4 linked regions of the Homo sapiens genome follow. The protein of the gene in region 3 interacts with the protein of the main gene of each other region in a pairwise test. Each region holds a gene or a part of one and is shown on either strand. Other genes may lie near its edges.

What was found.
Region 1: the proteins of IL16 (region 3) and PPP1R16A interact in binary tests that used the Homo sapiens proteins (3 or more experiments, as listed by UniProt).
Region 2: the proteins of IL16 (region 3) and ANXA6 interact in binary tests that used the Homo sapiens proteins (3 or more experiments, as listed by UniProt).
Region 4: the proteins of IL16 (region 3) and CCDC184 interact in binary tests that used the Homo sapiens proteins (3 or more experiments, as listed by UniProt).

The regions. Positions count from the first base shown.
Region 1 is NC_000008.11:144,494,893-144,501,988, forward strand, and holds part of PPP1R16A (protein phosphatase 1 regulatory subunit 16A), read left to right. Parts: exon of another isoform or gene 1-1,568; 5' UTR 1,569-2,302; coding exon 2,303-2,561; intron 2,562-3,084; exon of another isoform or gene 3,085-3,103; coding exon of another isoform or gene 3,104-3,325; exon of another isoform or gene 3,326-3,877; coding exon 3,878-3,948; exon of another isoform or gene 3,949-4,023; coding exon 4,024-4,169; exon of another isoform or gene 4,170-4,630; intron 4,631-5,203; coding exon 5,204-5,307; intron 5,308-5,374; coding exon 5,375-5,499; intron 5,500-5,594; coding exon 5,595-5,720; intron 5,721-5,793; coding exon 5,794-5,869; intron 5,870-5,949; coding exon 5,950-6,079; intron 6,080-6,236; coding exon 6,237-6,402; intron 6,403-6,627; coding exon 6,628-7,011; 3' UTR 7,012-7,096. UniProt on the Homo sapiens protein: Inhibits protein phosphatase 1 activity toward phosphorylase, myosin light chain and myosin substrates.
Region 2 is NC_000005.10:151,154,718-151,162,524, reverse strand, and holds the start of ANXA6 (annexin A6), read left to right. Parts: upstream 1-4,745; 5' UTR 4,746-4,845; intron 4,846-7,807. UniProt on the Homo sapiens protein: May associate with CD21. May regulate the release of Ca(2+) from intracellular stores.
Region 3 is NC_000015.10:81,297,875-81,304,970, reverse strand, and holds part of IL16 (pro-interleukin-16), read right to left. Parts: intron 5,668-7,096; coding exon of another isoform or gene 5,624-5,667; exon of another isoform or gene 5,592-5,623; coding exon 4,496-5,591; intron 3,628-4,495; coding exon 3,459-3,627; intron 1,423-3,458; coding exon 1,321-1,422; intron 1-1,320. UniProt on the Homo sapiens protein: Interleukin-16 stimulates a migratory response in CD4+ lymphocytes, monocytes, and eosinophils. Primes CD4+ T-cells for IL-2 and IL-15 responsiveness. Also induces T-lymphocyte expression of interleukin 2 receptor. Ligand for CD4.
Region 4 is NC_000012.12:48,179,784-48,186,485, forward strand, and holds CCDC184 (coiled-coil domain-containing protein 184), read left to right. Parts: upstream 1-3,860; 5' UTR 3,861-4,339; coding exon 4,340-4,924; 3' UTR 4,925-6,143; downstream 6,144-6,702.

The sequences.
Region 1 (7,096 bases), on a different chromosome or scaffold from region 3:
TGCCTGCAAGACTGGCTCTCCTGCCTCTCTGGTACCCATGCTGTGTCTCTAGAGGGCAAGGGGAGGACTTGGGAGCCTGGGCAGGGTGTCTGGCCAGTGTGTGCTTGCCCTGGCCTCTGCGGTCTACAGAGCTGGCCAGGCTTAGGAGCAGGCTGCTCGGAGGGAGAGTTACTGCCTGGAAAAGCTCTTTACTTGGCAGGCAGAAAGCCAGGTCAGGGCCACTGGCCTTATTGGCCGTGTCCTCAGGAAGCCTCTGAGGCTAGGCCTACAGGGGGGGACTATGTCTAGAGTAGGCTGAACCTGTAAAGTGGGGCTCCCAGATAAATTGGGGGCCCCTGAGCAGGAAGGACCTGACTGGCTTAATTTGACCTGGCCCAGGACAGTTCCCTTTCTGAAAGAAGGGGGCATTCTATGAAACACCTGGGTAGAAGTCCAGCAGTGAAGAGTTGGGTCAGTGTGTAGATGGCCATGAGGCCTGGCTGGGTGGAGAATAGGACTCCTGGCAGGCATCTTCTGCAGAGCACGGAGTGCCTTCTTTCTTTTCTTTCTTCCTTTCTTTCTTTCTCGGAGTCTCGCTCTGTCACCCAGGCTGGAGTGCAGTGGCGTGATCTTGGCTCATTGCAAGCTCTGCCTCCCTGGTTCACGCCATTCTCCTGCCTCAGCCTCCCGAGTAGCTGGGACTACAGGCACGTGCCACCACGCCCAGCTATTTTTTTTGTATTTTTAGCAGAGATGGGGTTTCACCCTGTTAGCTAGGATGGTCTCGATCTCCTGACCTCGTGATCCACCCGCCTTGGCCTCCCAAAGTGCTGGGATTACAGGCCTGAGCCACCGCGCCTGGCCAAGCACAGAGTGCCTTCTGAGGTGAGGCCTGTGGCCAGCCCAGCAACCACACTTAGTGTGTCGGGCAGGACTAGGGCCATAGCAGGTACATAGGCAGGGTTGTGCCCCAGCCGAAGCTGTCTGCCTGCCTGTCTGTCCCCATAGGCCTCAAGCCAGGCACCAGGTGGGGGCTTTTATTGCAGCCTAGGATGGCAGAGGCATTGTGGGAGCCCATCAAGGAAGAGGTCTAGAGACTGGGCAGTGAGAGGCTGGGGTATCAGTCAGGACAGGAGGAGGCGGGGCCTACCCTTGGAAGGCAGGAGAGGTGGAGGCCCAGGAGGCGGGGCCTGCCCTTGGAAGGCAGTAGCCTGCAAAGCCCTCAAGGCTGTTCCACGAGACCTCACCCTGCCCAGCCTTAGGGCAGCGCCTGGCCCTGGAGGAGCAGCCTAGCAGGGAACGCCTCGCTGGGGTGGGCGGCCCTTTCTGGAAAGGGTGGGTGGGAGGAGCCTGACATGCCTTTCCCCCGCCCCTCTCTGAACCTGGGGCAGAATGGGGGCAGAGTAGCTCCCCGTACCCCCAGGACTGTTGACCTGCAGTGCTCTCTGTGGACAAAGGGTGGGCCTCACACAGGGCAGGACCTGAGACAGCTGGAAGCCTGGTCTCACCTGAGGCCCAGGGCAGGGGCTCCCCCGGGCCACCCTGCCTCAAGCCGGCCTTGATATGCTTCCTTGTTCCCCACTTCTCAGGTGTGAGCAGCTGCTGGAAGAGGAGGTGCTCCTGAAGACACTGCGGCCGGCCCGCCTGTGCCCTTGGTGCCCTGGCTGCCTAGAGAGCCTCACCCCTGGGCCCTGGGGCCAGGACTCCAGGACTCTGACTACCTGCCCTCCCCCAGCCTCAGCGGCTGCACCTCCTCGTTAGTACTGATGCACTGACCTCGGCACACAGCTGGGAGGGGTTGGGGGCTGGGTCATGGCTGCTCCCAGGCCCCACCCAGGCTCCTGAGCCTAGAAGGTGAAAAGAGGACTCTCAGGGGCTCACAGGGGCTCTCACTGCTGGTTGGCCCTGCCCTCCCTTCCCCCTCAGCAGGGTGCCCGGAAGCTGGAACCTTGTTATCTGGGTAATTAGTTTCAGACCCTGCACTGAGGCCGGCCAGGTCTCGGGGCTGCCTCCCATAGGTTGTGCACCCTGACCCCGAGAGGGAGGCGAGGCGCTGCTTGTCGACAGCTAGAGGCTGGCCTGGGGAGCAGGTTTGGGGTGCCCTCCCACACTGCCCTCCCTGCCCCGGCCCATGCCCCCCAGGGCTGCCTGGGCCTGGTTATTGTGTGGGGCCTCCTGACCCAGCCAAGGGCACGAAGCTCTGGGAAGGGGATGCCCCCGAGGGTGCCAGTCCAGCTAGCTGCCCCACCCCTCAGGCCCAGCCTGGCCCCCAAGCTCCCCACTCTGGTGCCCCGAGCAGCCCTGTGGGCAAGCAGCCGCCGCCATGGCCGAGCACCTGGAGCTGCTGGCAGAGATGCCCATGGTGGGCAGGATGAGCACACAGGAGCGGCTGAAGCATGCCCAGAAGCGGCGCGCCCAGCAGGTGAAGATGTGGGCCCAGGCTGAGAAGGAGGCCCAGGGCAAGAAGGGTCCTGGGGAGCGTCCCCGGAAGGAGGCAGCCAGCCAAGGGCTCCTGAAGCAGGTCCTCTTCCCTCCCAGTGTTGTCCTTCTGGAGGCCGCTGCCCGAAATGACCTGGAAGAAGGTGAGTGTGGCTGAGCCCAGAGCAGCTCCCAGCAGACGGCCCACTCCCTGCTACCTGGGTGCCGTCTCATGCCAAGGCTGGGGGCTGGGCCTGTCCACAGCTCCTGGGCTCCAGCCCCCAGATCTTGCCTGGTCTCTTCAGGCTGGGTGGCCCAGGGTGCCCCCATCAGGCAAGCCCCAAGCAGTGGGCAGCCCTGAGGTGAGCCTGTGCGGGACAGCCGTCCTTCAGGCGGGGGCTGCATGCAGAGGGCTCCTGCTGTGAGGTGAGCTGAGGCCATGAGTGGACCCCCAGGAGCCTGCAGAAAAACCTAGTGCGGGGCCCCACGGGAGCAGGGGTGGCCGGTAGTCATTGCTGCTTCTTGTTAGGCTGCTCAGGAGAGCCCTGGTCTCCACCTCCGTGAAATAGGGTGGGACCAGCCACCTCTGTGGGTGAGAGAGCCAGGCCCTGGGCAGGCACAGAGCTATGCAGGTGGCCCCCTCTCAGTGCCTGCCCTAGGCTCTGCTTGTGACTCTCTTCTCCTCACCTGTGCCCCACGCTTGCAGCCCCAGCTGTGTGGGTTCCACTTCTGGTGCTCTGGAGTCTTGGGGGAAGAGGCACTGTGGTGGCCCTTGAGACTCCTTCCTGCCTCCCTCCGGAGCAGAGAGTAAAGAGGAGCCGGCAGTGTCTGGCCTGCATCTTTCCATGTGGACAGGAGCCCTCCCGGGAGGCCTGGAGGCAGAGGGAAGAGGCGGAGGGTGCCATGGTCCACAGGGAGCTGTGGGAAGGTGGGAGCCCTCCTGCTGCACCCCAGGCACCGTCAGGGAGAACCCTGGTGACCTGGGCGAGAGCTGGGCCCGAGTTGGGATCTTTGATGGGGAGGGGAGTGAGAGCAGGGATGTGCTCTGGTGGTGGGGAGCCTCAGGTCAGGTCCCAGAGGACCCAGGAGAGCTCATGAACACAGGGCTGGCAGGTTGTCAGGGAAGAGCCGAAGGAGCTGTGGTAGCCTCCAGGCAGGGAGCTCTTCCTGGGCTGGAGGGAGGTGTGGGATTGTTGGAGTGCTGCTCTCACACAGGAGCACGGCCTGTTCTGGGGGTCGGAGGGCTGGAGCACCACCATGAAGGGCCTGCAGGTGGGTGGAGGCAGAGGGCTTCTGGGAGTGTGACCGGCCTGGGCCAGACAGATGCCTGGTGCTTCTGCCCCCACCCCTGGGCTCTGGTGTGCCTCCTGCCATCGGCACCACTGTCTTCCTTGTCCTTCCCTGGGTCCTGGGCCGAAGCACAGTTGACAGGACCTGACCAGGGGCAGGACCCTGTCCTCACCTCGCCACCTTTTTGCAGTCCGCCAGTTCCTTGGGAGTGGGGTCAGCCCTGACTTGGCCAACGAGGACGGCCTGACGGCCCTGCACCAGGTCAGCCTGCACTGGGTGTGGGCAGGGTGGGGGCTGGCCCCCGTGCTCTGGTCGCTCACGTGGCACGGTTTGCAGTGCTGCATTGATGATTTCCGAGAGATGGTGCAGCAGCTCCTGGAGGCTGGGGCCAACATCAATGCCTGTGACAGTGAGTGCTGGACGCCTCTGCATGCTGCGGCCACCTGCGGCCACCTGCACCTGGTGGAGCTGCTCATCGCCAGGTAGGGCCTGTTGGGCGTCCTTGGCAGGGAGAGGCTTCCTCTCAGATGGCCGCTCAGGAGGCTCCTCTTGGGCAGTATCTGTGGCTCTCGGCCTCCTGTGTTCCCGCCTTCACCTTTGCTGACCCTGCCTGTGTCCTGGCATGGAGAGCAGGGCCTGGGGCTCCAGGGGAATGGGCATGTGCCCAGGGCAGCGCGGTCCCTGCCTCCCCAGCATTCGTCCTCCTGCCGAGAGGGCAGGCCTCGGGCCCCCCCCCAGAGTGTGCACAGAGAAATGTCTTGGTCAGTGAGGAGGGCAGAACTGCTAAGGAGGGAAGCAGAGTGAGGAGGCCAGGTGGCTTGGGAGGAGAGGGTACCTGAGCACAGGTAGGGCCTTTACCTTTAACACAGAGGGACGTAGAGCGGGGGGAACTCTGAGCAGGGAGGGTCCATGAGCCTCCTCCCTTCCCCTTTGCTCCAGGCATCTGTAGTGGGAGAGAGGTCAGGGCTGCGGTCATTCTCGAGTGCCCCTGTGAGGCCGGGTGGGGTGTGCATGGCGGTCGCGTCACACACAGGCGCTGCGGGGCAGGCGGGGATGTGGGGTGTCCACAGGTAGGCCTGCTCCTCCACTGCACACAGACACCCCCTTCTGTGTTCTGGGCTCCCCTTCACCGCCCTTCTTCCCTGGGGCCATGCTCCCCACAGCTCAGCAGCCCCTCAGCGTGGCTGCCTGGTCCTGCACCCCCGCCACCCTGTGCTCCCTGCTCCCCAGCAGGCAGGCCCATCCAATGCATGTTTATGGGGGCACCGCTGCCCCTGGAGGTGCCAGGAACCTGGATCCCTGGATGGATAGAGACTGCAGGAGGCCTGTCTGGCTTAATGACAGGATCTAGGACAGCCGATGGGCCCCAAGGCTGCCTCTCCCAGCAGCAGGTGGACAGGGTGCCTCCTGAGGGGCAGCCCTGGGCTGAGGGGCCCTGGCGGGGACTTCTCCAAGTGAGGAGCCTGGCAAGCGGGGAAGGGCCTTGTGCCCAGCACCCCGTCCGTCTTCCCTGCAGTGGCGCCAATCTCCTGGCGGTCAACACCGACGGGAACATGCCCTATGACCTGTGTGATGATGAGCAGACGCTGGACTGCCTGGAGACTGCCATGGCCGACCGTGGTAGGTGCGGCGGTGCGGCTGTGGGAGGGCTGCCGGTCGCGCTCCCTCTGAGCCTGCCGCCTCGCAGGCATCACCCAGGACAGCATCGAGGCCGCCCGGGCCGTGCCAGAACTGCGCATGCTGGACGACATCCGGAGCCGGCTGCAGGCCGGGGCAGACCTCCATGCCCCCCTGGACCACGGGGCCACGCTGGTGAGGGCTGGGGGGTGAGGGGCACACGGGGCTGGGGGCCTCGCTACTTGGAGGTGGGGGATGGGGCCGAATTCAGGCCGGGCGCTTGCCTGCAGCTGCACGTCGCAGCCGCCAACGGGTTCAGCGAGGCGGCTGCCCTGCTGCTGGAACACCGAGCCAGCCTGAGCGCTAAGGACCAAGACGGCTGGGAGCCGCTGCACGCCGCGGCCTACTGGGGCCAGGTGAGTGCGGGCGGGAGCAGGTGGGAGGGGGCTTCCAGCGCAGCAGTCTGCAGCTCCGGCCTGCCGTCCACAGGTGCCCCTGGTGGAGCTGCTCGTGGCGCACGGGGCCGACCTGAACGCAAAGTCCCTGATGGACGAGACGCCCCTTGGTGAGCTTGCGGGGCCCACCTCCACCTGGGGGAGAGGACAGGCGGGGAGGGCGCCCCTGACGCCTGCGCCCACTTCTCAGATGTGTGCGGGGACGAGGAGGTGCGGGCCAAGCTGCTGGAGCTGAAGCACAAGCACGACGCCCTCCTGCGCGCCCAGAGCCGCCAGCGCTCCTTGCTGCGCCGCCGCACCTCCAGCGCCGGCAGCCGCGGGTGAGCGCCGCCCCCAGCAGGCCCCGCCCCGGGCTTGGCCCCGCGGACGTCAGCCCCGGGCGGAGTGCCAGCCGAACTGGGGGCAGAGTCCGAGGGGGTGGGCGGGGTCCTCCGGGCACTCCCCTTCCCCTCACTCCCTCTCCTCTCTCCTCCCCAGGAAGGTGGTGAGGCGGGTGAGCCTAACCCAGCGCACCGACCTGTACCGCAAGCAGCACGCCCAGGAGGCCATCGTGTGGCAACAGCCGCCGCCCACCAGCCCGGAGCCGCCCGAGGACAACGATGACCGCCAGACAGGCGCAGAGCTCAGGCCGCCGCCCCCGGAGGTGAGCGCCCCGTCCCTGCTCCGCCCAGCGCAGGGGTGGGCCTGGCTCTGCCCTGGTTCTCTCTCCGCTTGGACCCCCTCCTGCCTGTGTCAGGAATGGTGCCCTGCAGGGGCCAGCTTTTGCCCCATCTCTCCTGTCTGTCCCTTCATGACCATACAGCCTGAACCCAAGGCCAGGGAGGGGGGAGGAGCCTCCTGATGGCTCTGGGACCTTCACTGCCCGCAGGAGGACAACCCCGAAGTGGTCAGGCCGCACAATGGCCGAGTAGGGGGCTCCCCAGTGCGGCATCTATACTCCAAGCGACTAGACCGGAGTGTCTCCTACCAGCTGAGCCCCCTGGACAGCACCACCCCCCACACCCTGGTCCACGACAAGGCCCACCACACCCTGGCTGACCTGAAGCGCCAGCGAGCTGCTGCCAAGCTGCAGCGACCCCCACCTGAGGGGCCCGAGAGCCCTGAGACAGCTGAGCCTGGCCTGCCTGGTGACACGGTGACCCCCCAGCCTGACTGTGGCTTCAGGGCAGGCGGGGACCCACCCCTGCTCAAGCTCACAGCCCCGGCGGTGGAGGCTCCCGTGGAGAGGAGGCCGTGCTGCCTGCTCATGTGAGGCTGTTGCTCAGCATGCAGGGGCCCTGTCGCGGGCACAGCCCAAGGCTGCCTCCCCACGGTGCGTGCCCTGGTGCTGCGGGTGC
Region 2 (7,807 bases), on a different chromosome or scaffold from region 3:
CTACTTTACCTAAAAGCAGCATTTGACACACCTGATCACTCCCTTATTTTTCACTTTGCTGCCACATTCTCCTGGGGTAGTTTCCTCCCATCTTACTACAATCTCCTTCCCAGTCACCTTTGCTGAATTCTTTTCTTCTCCCCAACTCTTTTATTTTATTTTTTGAGAGTCTCACTCTGTCTCTCAGGCTGGAGTGCAATGGTGCCATCTCACTGCAATCTCCACCTCCTGGGAGTGATTCTCCTGCCTCAGCCTCCCAAGTAGCTGGGATTACAGCATGCACCACCACGTCCAGCTAACTTTTTGTATTTTTAGTAGAGATGGGGTTTAACTATGTTGGTCAGGCTGGTCTTGAACTCCTGGCCTCAAGTGATCCACCCACCTCAGCCTCCCAAAGTGCTGGAATTACAGGCATGAGCCACCGGGTCCGGCCTCTCCCCAAATGGTAACATAAGAGTGTCTCAGACTCGGTCCTTAGCATCGTGGGTGATCAGCAACTATTTGGGGCTGGCGGTACAGGCAGTAAGAAGAATTTACCAAGGCAGTTGTAGGTAAAGAAAGGCAGATTTATTAGAGAAAGTATGAAAATACATTGCTGCCAGACGTGGTGGCTCATGCCTATAATCCCAGCACTTTGGGAAGCCGAGGTGGATCACGAGGTCAGGAGTTTGAGACCAGCCTGATCAACATGGTGAAAACCCATCTCTACTAAAAATACAAATATTAGCCAGGTGTGGTGGCACGCACCTGTAATCCCAGCTACTCAGGAGCCTAAGGCAGAAGAATCGCTTGAACCCGGGAGGCGGAGGTTGTGGTGAGTCGAGATAGTGCCACTGCACTACAGTCTGGGCGACAGAGTGAGACTTCATCTCAAAAGAAAAACAGAAAAGAAAAGAAAATACGTTGCAAGGGTGCAACGGGCAAGTTAGCAAAACAGAAGCTAACTGCAAGAAAACAAAATCTGGCTAAGGATTTTATAGGATGGTGCTTGTGCTGTGTGCTGAAGAGGGCTTTGTGCAGTACTGATAACATCAAGGGTGCAGGGAGCTTGCGTGCATTTTTCTATCAGGTGAGGGTCTGGCAATAGCTGGGCGCAGATAAGATTGTGAGTTATTCGCACAGGAGGGCTATGCATCCTGGGCCATGAAGAAAGGCAGACTTATAGCTTATCTGCTTTCTCTTTTTGCTTTCCCTTGGTCCTGCCAGCCTGACTCCTTTTGCCGAACTAGGACTCCATATTTAGTTCTCTTCTCCCTTAAGGATCTCATCTCTTGAACTCCAGACTTGACTAGCCAACTGCGTACTTGACATCTCCTGTTGGGTGTCTAATAGAAATGTTCAACAAACTGGTCAAAAACTGAACTCCTGATCTTTTCCCCACTTCTAATTCCCAAAATTGCTTTCCCTGCAGTCTTGCTCATTTCAGTTGATGGTAACTCCATCCTTCCAGTGGCTCAGGCCAGGATCCCTGAAGCCATTCTTGACTCTTTCTCATCTCCCACCTGATCCTTCGGAAATCATGTTCAACCTTCAAATACATCCCATCTCCAACCACTTCCCCCACCTGCATTTATACCAGCCTGTCTCTTGCCTGGATTACTGCAAAATCTCCTAGCAGATCCCCTTCTTCTACTCTTCCCCCAACAGTATTCAGTATTTCCAACACAGGAGACTTCAGTGACCCTTTAAAAAATATGTCTTGGCCAGGTGCGGTGGCTCACACCTGTAATCCCAGCACTTTGGGAGGCCAAGGCAGGTGGATCACCTGAGGTCAGGAGTTCAAGACCAACCTGGCCAACATGATGAATCCCCGTCTCTACTAAAAAAATACAAAAATTAACTGGGCATGGTAGCAGGTGCCTGTAATCCCAGCTATTTGGGAGGCTGAGGCGGAAAGAATTGCTTGAACCCACGAGGTGAAGGTTGCAGTGAGCCGACATGGCACCACTGCACTCCAGCCTGGGCAACAGAACGAGCCTCTGTCTCAAACAAACACAAAAGTCTTATCCAGAATATAAAAAGAACTCATATAACTTAACAACAAAAAAGACAAAAAATCCAATTTAAAAATGAGCAAAAAGCATGATTAGATATTTTTCCAAAGAAGATGTACAAATAGTGGCCAATGAGCACACAAAAAAGATACTCCACATCATTAGTCAGAAGGGAAATGCAAATCAAAAACACAATTATAGATGCCATTTCATAATGACTAGAGCACAAGTTTTTTGTACTTTTGTTTTTTTGAGACAAGTTCTCACTCTGTCGCCCAGGCTGGAGTGCAGTGGTGCAATCACGGCTCACTGCAGCCTCTACCTTCCAGCTTCAAGGGATCATCCCACCTCAGCCTCTCCAGTAGCTGGGATTGCAGGCATGTGCCACTACCCCTGGTTAATTTTTTGTAGAGATGCGGTTTCGTCATGTTGTCCAGGCTGGTCTCAAACTCGTGGGCTCAAGCAATTCACCCACCTCGGCCCTCCCAAAGTACTGGCATTACAGGCATGAGCCACTGTGCCTGGCCGGGTACAAATTTTTAAAAAATAAAATACAAGTGTTGGCAAGGACATGGAGAAATTAAAAGCCTCATACATGACATGGCTGATGGGAATATAAAATGTTGCAGCCACTCTGAAAAAATGTTTGGCAGTTCCTCAAAAACTTAAATGTAGAATTACTATATGACCCAGCAGTTTCATTCCTAGGTAAATACACAACGACAATTGAAAACAGGTACTCAAATAAGTATTTGTATGCAAATGTTCATTAGCAGCACTATTCACAATCAGCAAAAGGGGGAAACAATGCACTATCCATCAACAGATGGATGGATAAACAAATTATAGTGTACTTATACAACGGAAAATTATTCAGCCATTAAAAGGAATGGAGTGCTGGACCGGACACGGTGGCGCATGCCTGTAATCCCAGCACTTTGGGAGGCAAAGGCGGGTGGATCACCTGAGGTCAGGAGTTCGAGACCAGCCTAACTAACATGGTAAAACCCCATCTCTACTAAATACAAAAATAAATTAGCCACACGTGGTGGTGCATGCCTGTAATCCCAGCTGCTCGGAAGGCTGAGGCAGGAGAATTCCTTGAATCTGAGAGGTGGAGGTTGCAGTGAGCCGAGATCACGCCATTGCACTCCAGCCTTGGCAACAAGAGCAAAACTCCAACTGAAACTAAAAAAAAAAAGGAATGGAGTGCTGATACATGCTACAGTGTGGATGAACTTCAAAAACATGCCACATGAGGCCAGGCACGGTGGCTCACGCCTGTAATCCCAGCACTTTGGGAGGCCGAGGCAGGTGGATCACCTGAGGTCGGGAGTTCAAGACCAACCTGACCAACATGGAAAAACCCCGTCTCTACTAAAAATACAGAATTAGCTGGGTGTGGTGGCGCATGCCTGTAATCCCAACTACTCGGGAGGCTGAGGCAGGAGAATTGCTTGAACCCAGGAGGCAGAAGTTGTGGTGAGCAGAGATCACGCCACTGCACTCCAGCCTGGGCGACAAGAGTGAAAAAACAACAACAAAAACAAACAAACAAAATGCCACATGAAAGAAGTCAGACAAGAAGGGTTGCATCTCATGTGATTCCATGTATATGAAATATCCAGAATAGGCACATCCGCAGAAGCAGAAAGCAAATTGGTGGTTGCCAGAGACGAGGGGTAAGGGAAAGTTAGGAGTGACTGCTCAGTGGGTATACTGTTTTATTTTTCCGTGAAGAGAATATTTTGGAACTAGATAGAGGTGGTGGATACACAACATTGTGTCTGTACAAAATGCCACTGAATTGTTGACTTTAAAATGGTTAATTTTATGTTGTGTGGATTTCATCTACCCAAAAATAATACCCTTTCTTTGCTCAATATCCTGCAATGGATCCCCAGTTGACTCAGAGTAAAAGACAGCGTGCCTTCAAGGGCCCCGGAGGTCCCACCTGATTGGGTCCCTCTTATCTCTCCTCTCCCTCCCACTCACTCCATTCCAGCCACACTGGCCCCCCTGCTGATCCTCGGAGGCGCCAGGTGGCCTCCTGCTAGGAGCATTTGCTCCAGCAGTTTCCTCTGCCTGGAACACTTTCCGCAGGTATCTGTCCAATTCTTCTAACTTCCTCATCTTCTCCTTACCAATCCCCTGGGGACAATAATTCTCAGTTTCCTCTGTATTCTCAGTTTATCAATTTTTCCTGTTCTAGCGCTGGATTACAACTGCTGGTCTCCCTGCCTGCCTTCCCTGCTTCCCAGAGCACGAAGAAGCTTGCCTCCGCAACCCACTATTTGTGTGACCTTGGTCCAGGAACTGGACTGGGCTCTCCTCCTGAAAGTGGGTAAATAATGTCACCGACCTAATGAGGCTGTTGAGGCATGGAATCTGATCAGGCAGATAAAGTGCCCCTGGCAAACCTCAATTTTCTGTTTCTCAACAAAGCTTTGGCGACTTATAAGAATTTGCGGGAAAGTGTCCAGAACCCGGAGTCAGGAGCCCTGACTTCTAGCCCTGAAGGGCCGCGTGACCTTGGCCAAAGCCCCTAATCCTTCTCAGTCTCAGATCCGGGGGCTGGAAACTGAGGAGGTTCTCCCGGCAAGCCCCTCGGGCTAGTGACATTCTAAGATTCCAAGAGCTAAGGAGCTAGAGGGGTGGGGTGGAGGAGGGAGGCGGGCGCGCCGGATTGGCCTCTGCGCGCCACGTGTCCGGCTCGGAGCCCACGGCTGTCCTCCCGGTCCGCCCCGCGCTGCGGTTGCTGCTGGGCTAACGGGCTCCGATCCAGCGAGCGCTGCGTCCTCGAGTCCCTGCGCCCGTGCGTCCGTCTGCGACCCGAGGCCTCCGCTGCGCGGTGAGTGGGCTGAGGCTGGAGAGGGGAGTCGCTCTGGGAACCCCTTCCCGGGGGCTGCAGGGACACAAGAAATAAGCGCCCAGTCATCGGCTGATGGGTACCCCCCGCCAGGAGCAGGGACGGGAGGGCGCGGTAACCCGAGAGTGTCGCAGACTGGGTGTGTCTGGGGAGCGCAGCGGAGCAAATCTGGGGTCGGGGCGGAGAGGCGCGGGCGGAGGGCGCCCTGGCTAGGGGGAGGGGAGGGAGTCCCGTTGCTGCAGAGGGTCTGGTTGAGGGTCCTGGGCGCCGGAGCTGAGCCAGGGGCTGGTCCTGCCGGCCTTAATTTGGGGGGGCTCAAGAGACTTTGAAGGTCCGGGGTTGGGGTCAGCTGGACGCCAGTCAAAGGACCCGCAGAGAAGGGTGTGGCTGAGGCCCAAGACTGAGAGCAAGAGCGTTGGACCCTCCAGCTGCTTATAAAATGGCTTGTGTGTGGTGTCGGGGGAGGGCTGCCTGCGTGCAGAGAGCTGAACGTCCGGTCGTACATACCTCAGGGCCTCATTGGACCCCATCCCCTTTGGGCCACTGCTTGTCTATGAATGCAGTCTCCCAACGGGGCTCCGAGGCCTCCTATGGTGAGGCAGGGGCACTACCCTTCTTTCTGCATCCCCTAAGCGGTCTAGGCCTTCCCAAAGTTTGGGGGCTTCAAATAATTCCCCATATACCAGCATGGGAGCAAAATACCCTGAATCGGAATCCCAGCCCCTGTTGCAGTGTGACTTTGGGCGGTGGCTTTCCCTCTCTGAGCCTGGATTTCCTTCTCCAAGTCCATAGTTGAGAAACCCAGTCTCTTTCAAAGGAAACAATGGCTTTGAAAACTGATTTATTTGTCAGCTGTATGGAATGATTGCAGGTTTGGGAGTCTTGATTATAGATTTGGGAAGCCTGGCACAACCCTTGTAGGCCCTACAAGGGGAAAGGGCAGGAGGTCCTTTGGGACAACTAATCTGGCCACGGCTTCCTGCCTCCTCCTTCCTTTCCCTAGATTCTAGTGGGTCTTCTCTGACAATTCCAAATTTGGACATATGGCTCCCGGGTTTGTGAAAGGACTCTGGTTTCCCCCCAAGAGTCCGCCCTTTTCCCTCCATTATTCCTTCCCCCTTGCCCAAAACATGCTTGGGATTGCTTCCACTGACCCAGATGGCATATCCTGACCTGCGTAGCCCTTCATGGTGAAGTGAATGACCGCCCCAGTTTCAGCCCCTGTGGACCCTGACCTCCTAGCAGGCAGGCCCTGAGCCACGCCGAGGGCACTGGCCTGGGGTCAGAGGAAAGCCCGGTTACAGTCCGGATGTGCTGGGACTTCTTGAGCAAGCCCTTTCTCTAAGGCTTTGTGCCCCATCTGGAGCAAAGTCTGCTGAACTGGCTGCCACTGCCAGTGCAGACATTCTAGGATTCAACTGTTCTAAGATTTAGGATTCTGGGAGTTGGATGGGACTGGGGAGGGCAGGAGGCAGAGGCTTTCATCCCCCTCTGCAGCTGTGACAATCACTCATCCATCTTTCTTTGCCTTATCTACCCTTTGTTCCTAAGGCAGCATCTGCTGAGATACAGAAAATACTTGCAGTTTCTGGATAAGGGCCACAGCTGTTGCTGGGGCAAAATGTAGATGTGAGTGTGCAGAGGAGGGGCCAGGGAAGCCCAAGGCCTGGCCTCTTGAGACTGACTCCTGGGATGAAGTGGGGGAGACTGCAGTGCTGGATAGCTGCCAGTGACTGGCACATCCGCACTGCAGCATCCAGAGGGAGCCCTGGGCCACCAGGATCCAGCCTCGGACCCAGCCCCTGCCCTGCCACTAATCAGCTAGGCGCCCTGGGCACACCTACTACCCCTCTGGGGCTTAGCCCCTTCCTCTCTACAGGGATAGGACATATACCCAGGACACCCCACTGGTATTAATAAAATGGGTTGGGTCTGAATGGCTTTTGCTCTACCATTCTAGGATTTTCTGGGGAGGCCCAGTGGAATCACCAGCCTCACCCCACCCAGCCTCTCCGATATACTTCCTGGGTGGCGACAAAGCACAGGATGTGGTCTCTACCGTGATTCCTGAGCATGCATGCACCCCTTCTCCTGCCAATAGAGGGGAGGAAGTCGGAGGGGTGTCTTTATGCCTATAAACTTGCCTTGGAATCCAGCCTCACTCCCTTTCCTCCTGGAGTTGAGAAGCCCCCACAGAGACTGGCTATGGGGGAGTGACTGTCTATAGGTTCCTTGGATGTCCTGCCTATCTGCAAAATGAGAATGAGATCGATACCTTCATGAGGCTGTAAGATGGCAGATATAAAAGTGCTGTGTTATCTCAAAAGGGTGTGGTGCTTGAGAAGGCAGGCGACCTGAGCCTCAAGTTCCTCTTCTGAAAAATCCATGTCCTGGTGGTCCTTAAATAATAGCAATAAAATGGTAACCACTATTACCTCTCGAACCCTTAAATTTGCCAGGCCCCGGCTGAAGCCTTGCTATGTTAGACGCTGTTATTAATGCCTATTTTGCAGACATGGAAACTCCAGCCCTTAACAGTTTAAGGAAGAAATAATAATGACAAATGCTTATAAAATATAGTGCTTCCTGTGTGCCAGGTCCTCTTCTAAGCTCTAGACTTGTCTTAATTTTTTTTATCCTCATCATAACTCCTATGAGGGAGGTGCTATTTTTATCCCTTTTTTTTTTTTTTAATATGAAACAGGCACAGAGAGGCTCAATACTTGCACAACACCACACAGCTACTAAATATCACCCTCAGGCTTCAATCTCAGGCAGTCTGGCTCCAGCATCTATACTGTGAGACACTACTTTGCTGCCTCTCACAAAAGTGACCCAAGCTGGGGTTCAAACCTAGGCTAGACTAGTTCCAATCCTGAGGCAGAGAGATGATCTCCTGAGGCCTTGTCCAGTCCTAGGATCAATGGTTCTGGGTCAGGAGAGG
Region 3 (7,096 bases):
CTCATGTCTCTGCCTCAGCCTCTTTAATGAGGTCCATTATAATTAAGAGGACTGAGTGATAGCATGCATGGAAACCACTAAAATGTGGTACCTGTAGTTTTGCTTTTATGATAGGAGCAAAGCTCTTTGCTTCTCTAAATTGTTTTGGTGTTAGAAAAATTCTGTTACATGGTTAGAATCCCCAGGCTGTAACATCCAAGCATGAAGCAGAACCTCTCCTCTGAGCCTCAGGTTCCTCAATGCTAGAGGATTTTTAGGCCAACGAAGATTAAAGTTAATTAAAGGAGGAACCTCAGGTTCCTCCTCTATAAAAGAAGCATAAATGCCACCAATTTATCAATCCAAAGTGTGGGTAGGATGAATTTAGACAACAGGTCAGTGAGTGCTCAGCATGGCCGTGGATGGTGCTCTACGTTAGTTCCCTTTTAATCATCTGGAAAGGAAGAGAAATGCTCAAACACAGAAGGAGAAAGAAGCTTTTGTGCATGTGCTCAGCCAACATGTGCGCCTTCCTCCTAGTTTCCTGTTGTCTGCAGTGTCTCAAGGGTGACTGGCCAGATGACGTGGACAGAAGTTGCTACTCATGGACAGAGAAAAATACCCAAAGTGCCATTCCCACAGGCAAGCTCTCTTTCCTCCTCTTCAAGTAGAAAGTAAACTACACGGTCAGGAATCTTTTTGTAATACTCAGCTGCACTCAGTGAGAGAAATAGAGACTTACAGGTTTTAAGTGTTTTTTATGTGATAGAAAACTTATCAGGAAATCAAGGAAGTCACCACTGACATGATTGACTCTGAAGTGACACGCAGGAACATGCCAGATTGCCACTGCAAGGGGGTGTGGTATGTTGAATGCTGGCTGATGCTGTGAACTGGAGGATTTGTTTTCAGTTGGGCATGGAAATTCAAATGAGCCCAGCACAGCCTACACAAAGGATACCCTGAGACAACACAGCCCTGGGATGACAGCAATGCACTCGGCTTTAGAGAGCGAGCAGCCGCAGCATGGCTCCACAAAACTGGCAGAACCAGAAACCATCTGGGTCAGGTACAGGTGACCTGAAGGCAGCAGCCAATGCTGATCAGATTGGATGAGCCAGAATAGTGGGACCCACAGGAAAAGATGCCCATGGCCAGGCCTGCTACCCTCTCCACGCAGCCCCAGGCTCTGGGATGTGCTGAGTGGACAGGACCTGCCCAGTGGCCTAGTGTCATGCATTCTTCATTTCCCCAGCACAGGGCCCCTTCCTGGCAAGTGTGTCCCCCTCCCCCAGAACCATTGCCTCTGGCTGTGACATGCCCCTTCACTTGGCCACTCACCGTAATCACCTTGTTTTCTAGATCTGCTCCTCCTGCCAAGCTGAACCCAAGACCAGCACCTTCCTCCTTGTGTAAGATGGTGACATGGATGCCGTCTAATTGCTGCAGAGGAAATACATACATTCAAAAACATTTTACTGCAAGAGGATGAACAATTTAACATCGGACTGACATCAGACTGATTTGTTATCTCAAACCCCAGCTTGGCCAGCCTCCAAGTTACATCACCTCCTCAAACCTCAGTTTCCTCATCTGTAAAGAATGGACCTTCAGGAGTCATGGGAAGCTTAGAAGAAAAAAAAAATGTATGTAAAGCAGCAAGCATAATTATTTTCCTCTCTCATTCACCCTGTCCACAGCCGGGCAGGGGGAGTGCCATGAAGTCAGCCAGAAATCAGCATATTGGACAGTGTGAGATGAAGTCAGGTTGTAGGACTTCAGGTAAAACAAAACAAAAAAAAAAAACAACAAAAAACAAAACAGGGGTCAGTGCTGTTCTGCAGGAATTGGTTGCTCCTTCTTCCCTTCTACTTCTCCATGGGTCACAGCAGCAGCACTAAGGAAGCCCAGCTAACATCCTGCCCCAATGCACAGTGTGCAAGTGTGACACACACACACACACACACACACACACATTACTACGGTACTTCCTAGCCTAGACGGGGACTCCCATGGAGCCAGGACACAGTCAGAGACTCCTATTCCAGTCTAGAGCAGGGGTCTCAAACTCAGATGCCTATAGGAGTCAGGCAGGTCCCTAAAATGAGCCAAATGGGCAGATGTGTGATAGGAACTGCAGAGCGCCAACGAGTACATCTGCTCAAAGGGTCAGCTCTACGTAGGCATACAGAACTAGCGCTACCAGATCACTTCCCTAAAGTCCAGGTTTCAATTCAGGTTTTATCATGTATAGAATTCAATATTTTTTTCATCACCATGCAGACCAAATAAAGTACACCTACAGGTTCTTGGGGCACCTGTTTGTACCTTGGCACTAAGGAGTAAACTTATGTCAAAGAATTCACTTGCTCAGCGTCACTAGAGCACCTGACTTGCAGCTGTCCCTATGATCCTAAGACTTGGAGCCCCTAAGACCCAAAGGCATGGAAGGATGAATGTACCTCACTGCACCCTCACCTCCAAGCCCCAACACTAGCCCAACTCTCTCAACTTTTACCCAAGTATCAGGTTACTTGCCTTGTAGAAGGCTCTTCTCATGTTAGAAAGCAAATACTCTCCCCAGAGCAGCTCAGGCAGGATGGCTCTTTGTGTTTTACACGCTCTGCCTCTGTTATTTCATTTGCACTGAGTAAGATCCTGGGGGATGATGGTCCCAGGTGACAAGTGAAAGCCACAGCGAAAGAATCTCAGCACAGCAGCACCTTGGGCTCATCAGACTCACCTACACTCTTGATGTGGAAATTGCAGCTATGAGGCCTCCTTGTATGGAAAACGAGAACCTCCTTATCCTCTCATCCTAGCCTGGATCATTCTAGTGCCAAAAGCCTACGGAGGCCTGGGGCAGCACCTAGAGGGTGCAGGACCCATGAGCCTGAGCTCATTTGACTGCTGGCCCCAGCTCAGCCTGGCCACTTCCTCCCCACACCCCTTTGGGTCATGCTCAGAAAACATATGGGAAGTGAGACTTTCAGAATGACTTGACTGAAGCGTGGGGGACTTGTGAGCCCTGGGATCAGCCACCTCTCCATGCACAGTGGAAATAATGAAAGCTCCAGGTGAGAGCTCTTGTAACCCACATTGTTTACAATGGACAGCATCCCACAACAGACACATGCCAGGACAGCAGCACATGGAATGTGGAAACAGCACTGAACTTGAACTTGGAGACAGAAAACCCAGGTTCTGTAACCTTGATTGAGCCTTACCTTTCTCATTTATAAAATGACAAAAGAAGATGCAAGAAGTCAATCTACTGAAAGTGGTTCACAAGCTAAAAGGCTCTCTTCAAATGGAAGGTCTTACTGTGGTCAAGTGCTACAGTGTCCCACCATCACAGGACGCAACCTGGGTCTGATGTGAGCAGGCTACTCAAGCTACTTCCCCTCTGGCCCAACTAAGGTGGCCACACAGCCATAATAAGCCATTGGTTACTGCAGATGCTTACAAAGGAAACCTACCTTTAATGTTGCTTCATCCAGAACCTTCACCTCCTCGATGAGTTTTTTTAATTCTTCTGAGCTCAGCAGGGAGATAACGGACTGACCAGACTGAAGGGAACTGTGGTCCCCATCATCGTCTTCCTTGGCTTCCGTGAGACCCTCTGTATATTCTCTCAGCTCTGAAAGGCTTTCATAAGGAGAAACAACACACAGTATGAACAACAATATTAAAAAGAGGTAACAGTGATTGTATAATTACTATGTCCCAGGTGTGGTGCCAAGCACTTATGTGCATATTATTTGATGCAACAAATCTATGAGTAGATACTAGCATACCTTCACTCTACAGATATTTCCCAGCAGTGTAAGAATAATAAATAAAACTAATAAATGCAGAGCTACTTTGATCAGAGGGAAGACCAAGCCCCAGCCCTACAGCAGGGACCCTATGGCACGTCTGACATCCTCTTGGTTCTGCATAGAAGGTCTCATCCATCTCCTAATTTCAACTGACAAGGAATCTGAGGGTGAGCATGGAAAGAACCTGCTCATAGTCAGAATCAGTGCCTAAGCTGAGACTAGGACCCAGACATCCTAACTCCCTGACGAGGGAGTTGAACCCACGTGCAGAGTACAAGTGGATTCCATTTGGAGAGTAAGAATTCCTGATGGATAATTTCCTGGCCTCATTCTGGTCTTTCTGAGTAACCGCAGGACATTTCAGATGTGCATCAACCTTCCAAATCTCCACAGGCGTATGTCAGCCCTCATGAGCAATTCACCAGGGAGCCAGTCCCACCTCCTACCTCCCAGCCCTCCTGAAGCCAGATGTTGTGAAAACTCCTCCTTAATGTGAAAGGCAGAGGTGTAATACCTACAGACAGACACACACACACTCAGACATCTGCACACACATGGAAAGAAAGAGGCAGAACAATTCTTTAATCAATATATCTGGGAATTTTTTAAATTATATATAGGATTATTTTTAAAAATAAAGATGAGAAAGAAAAAGATGAGAAAGGTAAAGAGAAACACCGGGTGTAGAAACTCACTTGAGCGAGAACCCTGTGTCCAAGGCAGATGTTTCAGCAGAACCATTTGCAGCTGAGTCTTCGTTGGATGATGATGTTGGAGATGCCCCTTCCTTGGGGATGCAGGGAGTCTGGGCACAGGAGATAGAAGATGGAAGGCACAGCAAGGATTTCATGACAGCCGATGACACTTGGCTGCTGATAGAATAGAGTTTGCTGGTCTTTTCGTCAAGTAGCTTCGTCTCACAGGACTGGGACCTGGTCAGGGGGAAGCTCCGTGCTCGCTGGCTAGGCATCTTGAGCACTGGGCCTTGAGATTCCTCAGCCTGTGTTGACAGCAGCCTTAGGAGCGGGTCCGGGCCAGGGGGGAGAGTTTTCTGATTGGGCTGCCGCCCTGGGGGAGGGGACTCAGACACACCTGGGTCTCTGGCCTCGGAGGCTGCAGGGGACCCCGAGGACAGTACTTGCTCAGGCTGCTGGGGCACAAGAGTGGGTGCAGCCCCTCGCCCCAAGAGTCCAGAAAACCGTCCTTCCTCATGCTTCCCAAGAGGTTTTGCTGCCTCCCCAGAGGAGGGCTGGAGGCTCAGTCTCTGGGCTCCTTTGTCAGGCAGTTGAGAGGAGCCAAAGGTTTCAAAGGAGCTGATTCTCTGCCTGATGGAGGAGGAGGAGGAGGAGGCCCGGATGTGTGATCCTAGGTGCTCCCTGGAAGCAGGTGCTGGCTGGGTGGACAAGGCAGGATCAGGGAGCCCTCTTGGGTCTGAAGCACGATTCCTCAAACCTTTCAAGCTTTGGCGAAACCAGGCTGGCTTGGGAGCCACAGGAGGACCTTTCTTCACAGTGCTGCTGTCTGCTGACTTGTAAACTTTGGGAGTGCCATTGGCGGTGTCCAGCTTTGGTGGGGTCCCATCTGGGTGGCCCTGTGTCCCTTCTTCTTCATTCAGGCTGGCATTGGGCTGTAGAGGCATGTGGCCATGGTTCTCACTCATGATGGGGCTAAATAAGTTTTTGATGCAGTCAGAAATCCTAACCCAAGGGTCTTCGGCTGTGGTATCAAAGCTATAGTCCATCCGAGCCTGCCTCTTAAGCAGTGGGTGTTTTATCGGGGATGTTTGGGTCACTACAGTGCAGAAACAAGGCCAAAGCTGTGCATTACATCATACAGTGACTTTTCTTCCTAAATTCTAGTTTCCAAGCTGAACAGCAAGAAGGATTCAAGAGGAGGAGATTAGCAGAAGTGGGGGACACCCAGGTGGGTGAACTCCAGGTGCTATTACCTGACTGAGCTGCCAACAGGCAGGAGTGAAGGACCAGAAGTAGGAGTTAATCTCACAGTATCCTAGTGTTTTAGGCCTGGAAGGGTGCTCAGAGAATATCTGGGCCGACCTCTGGCATATTACATTTCAAGAAGGGTAAGGGGCCATCTGATGGCAGTGCTCAGGCAAGACCCTGTGTCTCCTGACTCTTGAAGTTCATGTCCTTTCTACTGCACTAAGGAGCCTCCAAGATACCATGTTAAATGTGTAAAAGCCAAAGCAGTTCTCCTGCCGTTTAAACTTTTAAGACAAAGGTCATGAGTTGGCAGCTGTTTGTGCTTTGACCTACCCGTGTCATTAAAAACAAGGTGCCTGTGCACAGCTTCTGATGGGGCCACTTCGGCTTCCCACAGCTCTTCACGCTCCCTCTCACCCAGCCAGCATTTCCCATGTATGTACCTGCCTGGCCCTGAAGCCGTGTGTTTGCTGCTCTGCCTATACACAGGTCATTGATCAGCTTGCTCTCGGCAAAGGAGTGTTTTCCCTCCCTCAAAAGCTGATGAAAAGGTTCCAGGTAGAAAGGAATCTGTGAAGTAGGATTCTCCACCTTGGCTACATACTGGAATCTGGAGGGCCCTGAAAAATACTGACGCCCACCCCTAGGTACTGACTGAAGATACCTGGGATGCAGCCTGGGTGTTGGGAATGTGATGAGCAGGGGATTGCAATGTGCAACCTGCTCTGTGCCAGCCAGGACCTCAGGCATGCCCTGGAGCACATAGGAGTCTTTCTCAGAAGCCAGCATTGAACCAGCATCATATCTGCATGGGTAAGGGAGAGGGTGTCCTGGCTCTCTTTCCCAGGGGCAGAGGGAGGCTGGCCTGTGTGCCTTGGGGGATGCTTGCTACTGGAACGCAACCCAGTTGAAGGAACTCTGATCCCTCCTGTCCCTTGTCTCAATGCCAGGTTTCAAAAGAAGTGAATCATGGAGCATTACACCTTGATGATATCAAAGAGAAATTCTGCACAATCTAAGAGACTGGCCTTGGGCAAGTGAGCCCAGGCCTCCAGCCTGTTTCTGCATTTTTGAATGGCTTGGCTGTAAGGTGCTGTTGTGAGAATCAGGAGGCAGAGGTTCCACAGGCAAGCCCTTTGCAGATTGGAGTGACAACCTCCTGTCAGTTAAACACTGAGGCGTTTGCTTTTGCTAGAATGTTCCTCAATTAGGGTGACTAAGGGAGAGGAGCCTCCACCCACAGGGCCTCTGCTCTGGGTGAGATGTGCTAGATCTTTCCAAAATGTCCCTTAGCCCTCCAAAAGTCTTTCATGAGCTTTTCTGTAGTGTTACTCAAACAGTCATATGTTTTAT
Region 4 (6,702 bases), on a different chromosome or scaffold from region 3:
CTGTGCACTAAGAATGTAAACCCCTTTAAAGTTTGCCCAGAGACTGTAATAAAAATCTAAATTTCTTTTTAATTCTTTTGGCTATTGGATATGTTTGAGTGTGATATCAAGCTGTGATGGGCCACAAAACAGGTCAGCTTCATGAAAGTTATATTTGGGGGATACTGTCTGGGATTTGGCGCCTAAGGTACAGCAGTCAGCTATATCTTGTTTTAAATCATTGCTCTAGACCTGAGTCTAGCCAGCATCATCGGATTTATAGTGCAAAAAATACACCAGCTATAGAAAATAGAAACTAGAGATACACGAGACACCAGACAGAGGAAAATGGCAGAGCCTCTTCCAAATCCCAATTTTAGTGAGAATATGAGGTTTGAAACTAGGTGTACCTGATGGAAACCTATATGTAGATAGCATGAGGGTCTCTCCCTATCACAGATTGATAAGAGTGGGATGAAGAGAATAGCTAAGGGGATTCCCAGAGGATAATAGAAAAGCAGGAAGCAGAAGCTGTGCGGGGGTTATATTCTCTTATTATGTGGCAGTTCCTCTGAATATTCTAGTAGGATGGCTGGGGTATACATCTGGCCACCTTTTGCTTGGAAATGGACCCATGCAACTAACTATAGGGCATTGGGATCCAGAGGGCCCAGGCCTGTAACCCATCTAGCTGACTGAGGCTCTGCCTCTGTTCTCCTTATTCTCCTTATTTTCCTGAGACTAGACTTTTCTACCTCATCTCATTTTCACACAGAGTTCCTGAAATGATCTGGTTTTCTATCAGATGCACCAATGTCTCCTTCCTATATTTTCTTTTTCTTTTCTTTTCTCTTTTCTTTTCTTTTCCTTCCCCTTCCCCTTCCCTTTCCCTTTCTTTCTCTTTCTTTCTTTCCTTCTTTCTTTTCTTTCTTTCTTTCTTTCTTTTCTTTCTTTTTCTTTCTTTCTTTTTCTTTCTTTCTTTTCTCTCTCTCTCTCTCTCTCTTTCTTTCTTTCGACTAAGTCTTGCTCTGTCACCCAGGCTGGAGTGCAGTGGCACAATCTTGGCTCACTGCAACCTCTGCCTCCTGGGTTTGAGCGACTGTCCTGCCTCAGCCTCTGGAGTAGCTGGGATTACAGGTGCCCACCACCATGCCCAGCTAATTTTTGTGTTTTTAGTACAGACAGGGCTTCACCATGTTGACCAGGCTGATCTCAAACTACTGATCTTAAGTGATCCACCCACCTCAGCCTCCCACAATGCTGGGATTACAGGCATGAGCCACCGCACCCAGCCACCTTCCTATATTTTCAAATCCTGCTACTGGTCCACTCCCCCAGTTCCCACCTACCCTTGGCTCTCAAATGTTTGACCTGGAACTTGACTGGACCAGCCAAACTGCTTGATCTCTGCACATGTTTCCCATGGCCTTTTGTGCTTCTCCAATAATTTCCCCTCCCTCTGGGCTCAGATCCCTTGTACTCTCAGTGGACTTCATGGCCAGCACCTCTGGACAGCATGATGTAATCTTATGCTGAAAGCCTTCACATCCTCAAGAATAGTGGCAAAAGGCCTTGTATGATGACATACCATAGCTCCTCCTGTATGGGGGCTATGCTTAGTGTAAGCTTATGGGATTTCAACAATGAGAGGTCCCCCACTGGGACAGAGTCACTCTTTGTAGGTAGAAGGTAGGGATATACCTGAAGGGTGAATTGGCAAGATGAAATCTTCCATGTGAAGTGCTTGTCAAGAGATGTAAAGTAACAGACCTAGACAGAAAGTCTGAAAGCCATGCCAGTCTTTTCTGGCTATAGCAGAGCTCTCCTCGGAAGGATGAAAGCAGGGTTGGACCTATAAGCCCTGAGAACATGCTTGCTGTAGTATAATCAGAAACTTATGCTGTGTAAGCTCAGCTGTTTTCATGTGTTCTGTTTCTATTTCTAGTTTTCCTATAGTTTTTAATAAAGTCTCTTTGTAAACACCAGCCCACTTCAGCTGTGCTTATGGAAACCAAGGAAAAGCATTTCTGTCCTCTCTTGAGCCAGAGTTTCAGGAGTAATCTAAGGTGTTATTACCACGTGTGGGGTACAGAGCAGAGGTAGGAGTCCTAAGCAAGGTGAGAGTGCTGGAAATCTGTAGAATGAAGGAAGAAATGAGCAAGCAAATAGAATTGAATCATTAGTTTCAGAAAATACAATACTGTGTTTTTAAAATTTGTTCATATATTTGTTTTGGGAAATCAAATTTTTAATGGCTGCATAATACTTTATGTATCAGCAATTTTGCCTTAGTTTATTTAAACATTCTGCTGCTGGTCATTTAGGATAGTCCCCACTTGTTTCTATTTTAAAAGCAGTAAGATTGGTATAGGTCAAGCAGTCCTCTAGTGTCACAAAACTTTCCCTGGGCCAGCCTCACTCTTCATCACCAAGCACATAACCAGGGAAACCCAAAGGTAACACATTTGCTGTCACTGAACCGCCAGTCTACAAAACACTCACCTTTACGTAGTTCTTCTCTATCTTGAAGTGATATAGTTTGTTTCTCTTTCCCAGATTTATTCTTATGAACTTCATTTTTGGCTTCCGATCACTTGGCTTCCCTAATTTCCTAGGGTCATTATTAATTATTGTGCTCTGCCCAGGTGCTGATTCCTTCTCAATCTGCAATCATCTACGTATATTAAAGACAATTTTTCTTCTTCCTCCACCCTTCCTGCTCCACCCCTTAAATAGGGAAAGGGCTTGTCACAAAGGTTGGGGATACTCAGTGTATGTCTGAACTTGGGCACTGAAAGAGAGAGCGGGAATTACTCTAACACACAGTCCCCCCATCCATACCCTCCACACAACGGTCAACAGTTTACCTTTTCACCTGTGAGATGATGCAGACTGTTATTCAGAATTAGAAATAGTATTATAGATTATCCAGTCCAATTCCCTAACAGATGAGGAAAATGATGTGGCCAAGGTCGCTGAATGAATAAGTGGCAGAAACGAAACTGAATTCAGGTCTCCTAAAACCCACTACGTTTGGCTTGGGGAGTTCTGGATGAGAGCGTGGGACTTGGTGGTTTTTGTTATTCATTCAATAACTATATTAAGCATCTACATACTAGGTGCCAGGCACTATTTTAGGAGCTGGGGATTCCGTGATGGAGGGTGCAGGGGAGACAAAAATCTCTCCCCTTATGGAGCTTTCATTCTCAAAACTTAAGCACTTGGCCTCCCCATCTGGGACAAACTCCCAGAGACCTGCGTAGGAGCGGTAGGGTCTCATAAAGGAGGGAGTCCCATCCTTCCCCCGCTCCGGTGATTTCTATAGCTAGAGGGCTGATTTACTGCAGAAACCTCCGTAGCGCCCTCCTCCTGCCTCTGCACCGTCAGGCCCGGTGGGTCCGGCTCCAGAGCGCCACCGTGCCCCAGCTCAACTCTGGGATCATTAGCAACAGCCTCTCTACCCTCTCCGCTTTCCTGCGCATCGCTGGAGGACAGGGAGGCAGGACTCGACTTTAGCGCCATCCTCTGAGAAAGGAATGCGGGCTGGAAAAATCTTTCCAGGGCAGTCTCGCTGGGTCTCATACCCCGGCTAGGGGAGGGACGATCTCTCCCGGACTTGGAGGTTTCTGCAGCAGACGGCTCTCTCATACTTCCCTATTAAACATTGCGACCACACGCTCTTTCCAGCCTTGGCCGAAGCCACTGTAGCGTCCCCTCTCCTCCCCCCACCCCGCTAGTCCAGACTCCAGAGCCCCACTGCAGCTTCCAGCCATCCTCCCTTTTTCTTCGCCACTTCCTGGTTACCATGGAGACACACGTCATTTACGTGCCGTGCGTCGCCTTGGAAACAGAGGAGCATCCGCGACACCCCCGGGAGACCCACCCCAGCTGCTGCTGCCACACTCGCGGGCGCTGCCCGGTAATGGCCTGGGGGAGTCCCGAGTCCGACGCGCCGCTGGCCTCAGCCTGGACGCGGACCCCTCCGCGAGCGCGTCTGTGACCCACGGAACCGGCAGGCGCTCTCTGCTTGTGGCGCCCAGAGGGCGGCGCTGACACGGGCGCGATCCGGGAGGCGAGGCAGGGCAGGGCACTTTCGTCCCGGGGCGATCCCAAGAGACGCCGGCTCTGGGACCCTCGCCGGGTCCTCGTCCCGCAGCCTCTTCTCGGCCTCCCGCGATCCTGCCTGCGCCCTCTGCCCAGGACTCGTCTCTCACGTCGGCTCCCCGCCAGTCTCGGGAGCCTCCGCTTCCCTCGGCTCCCGCTAGCCCCTCCCGGGACCTCTCCCCCTCCACCCCCTCCCCCACCCCGGAGGCCGGGCTGGACGCGACCCAGAGCCTCCGCCACCCGCTTCTGCCACTCAATGGAGGACGGTCTGCTGGAGATCATGACCAAGGACGGCGGCGACATGCCGGCGCCCCTGGAGGTGTCCACCGTGCCGGCAGTGGGGGACGTGATCTCCGGGGAGTACAACGGCGGCATGAAGGAACTGATGGAGCACCTGAAAGCCCAGCTGCAAGCCCTGTTTGAGGACGTGAGGGCCATGAGGGGGGCCCTGGACGAGCAGGCCTCGCACATCCAGGTGCTCTCGGACGACGTGTGCGCCAACCAGCGAGCCATCGTCTCCATGTGCCAGATTATGACCACTGCGCCCCGCCAGGGCGGCTTGGGCGTGGTCGGCGGCAAGGGGAGCTTCCAGAGCGACCCCCAAGAGCCGGAGACTCCTTCGCCTGGGATCGGGGACAGCGGCTTGCTGGGTCGCGATCCCGAGGACGAGGAGGAAGAGGAAGAAGAGAAGGAGATGCCCAGCCCCGCCACACCCTCCAGTCACTGTGAGCGCCCCGAAAGCCCCTGTGCTGGTCTCCTTGGGGGGGACGGGCCACTTGTGGAGCCCCTCGACATGCCCGACATTACCCTGCTGCAACTGGAGGGCGAGGCCTCCCTGTGAGGGGACTCCGTGGGGCACTACCTTCCCGGGCTGTCTTTGGGTTTCCGAGTGCATGACGCGAGGGGGACTGAACGGCGCGGTGCGGCATGCTTCACTTGGACAGCTGCTCTTGTGGGTCAGGCAGAGAGAGACTCCCTCGAGGAAGGATTTGTAGGGTGAAGGACTTTGGGAGCATCGAGAATTCTTTCTGCCCAACTAAGCGAATTATAGCGAACTGCGGAAAGGTGAGGCTCCGGGAGAGGAAGCGCCCATCTCTGGACTCCCATCCATCCCTATCCTGTCCTTTCCCCCTTCCCAGACAACAGGAGAACCCGTGAATTGTGTAAATAAAATTCTGCTTTTTCTATTCTGAAAAAGGACTTACCTAGGACCATGGCAAATAATCTCTAACAATTTACCTGGAAATTAAGGAATTGGGGGTATTTTGTTCTGGCAACAGGAAATTTACCCTTCTGCTGAAATCCAAGATATTCAGTGCTCTGCAGAAGCCTCTCCCCCTCACAGATCTCTGCGGCTGCTGATTGGTAAAGGAAGCTTGAGGAGGGAACTGCAGCCCTAGGAATCTGGGTGAATGGGGTTCCAAGGGCCCCTGGGCTGGGAGGAGCTGGCTATGAATGTGCATGAAGACATAATAGCTCAACCTCTAGGATTTTGCATGCAGAGCGGATCCTGCCTTGTCACTGACTTCATCTGGGATTGCTTTTCCACTCCCTGGGGCTTAGAGAACAAAGAGCCCGGTTCACAGGCAGAGACTCGGGGGTGCTCAGCAGCAGCCCAGATTTAGGGGACATTTGAGGGACTCTTGGGGCCGCAGCCAAAAACTGTCTCTCCTGGCTACACCTGCTTAACTTCAGTTCCTTTTTCTGTCAATATGTCCTTGCCCACTGCCTCTCGGTGTTGCCTTCATAATGTCTTGTGTGTGTTATGTGTGTCTACTTGTGTAGTAGTGTGTGAGCCCTCAGGGGCAGGGCTTGTGGCTCTGGTGTTAGGTTCAGGGGCTTCAGACCCTTCTACGAGCTCCAAGCTATCAATGGCGCTTTTCTCTCCCTCTTCCCCCAACCAGGGCATGGAGCATGTGGCTGTCCTGAGGTTCTTTTACTGATGTGCCGCCCTTCCACCTCCTCAAGTGGTGACTTTGTGTGCCCTCCCCCTCCTTTGTGTATTCCTTCTCAATGCTTTCCTTGGTGTTAACCTTAATAAAAAGGCGTCATCTCCCCTCCTTGCTGACTGGTACTAAGGGGATATCAGGGTGGGTCTTAGTGGGAACTGCAGGGGCCATGCCTTCCCTCCTCTCTCCTTGCCTCCAGTTCAAGGAGTTGACTGTCCCTGCCCTGGTTGGGACAGGCATTGCCAACTCTCCCTGCTTTCCCTTCTGTCCTGGACCTTGACCTCAAGCTGCCCTGGGGAAGGAGGTGGTAAGTGTTGAGACTCCCATGCTAACATGAGTTTTTAGTAGCCAGAACTCCAAATGTGCAGGAGACTTCTTTTTCAGTGAAGCATCCCAGTGAAGCCCTGGGAAATGATTTCCAAATCTGGGTCCTGGAATGGCAGATACTGCACCTGTTCCATGGAGGGAGTGGGGTGGGGGTATTGTTCTGGAGGGATTGCCTGGGATCTCTGGAAATAGTGACACATCACAAAGGGAAACCACAATAACTGCCTCAGGCCTCTAGTGGAGAACCCGGGTAAGGTGTTCCCCAGAGGGCTTGACTGACAGCTCTAGTCTACTCCCTTGGGCAATGGAGATTTCTTGAGGCTGCCCCTGAACAAAATTTGAG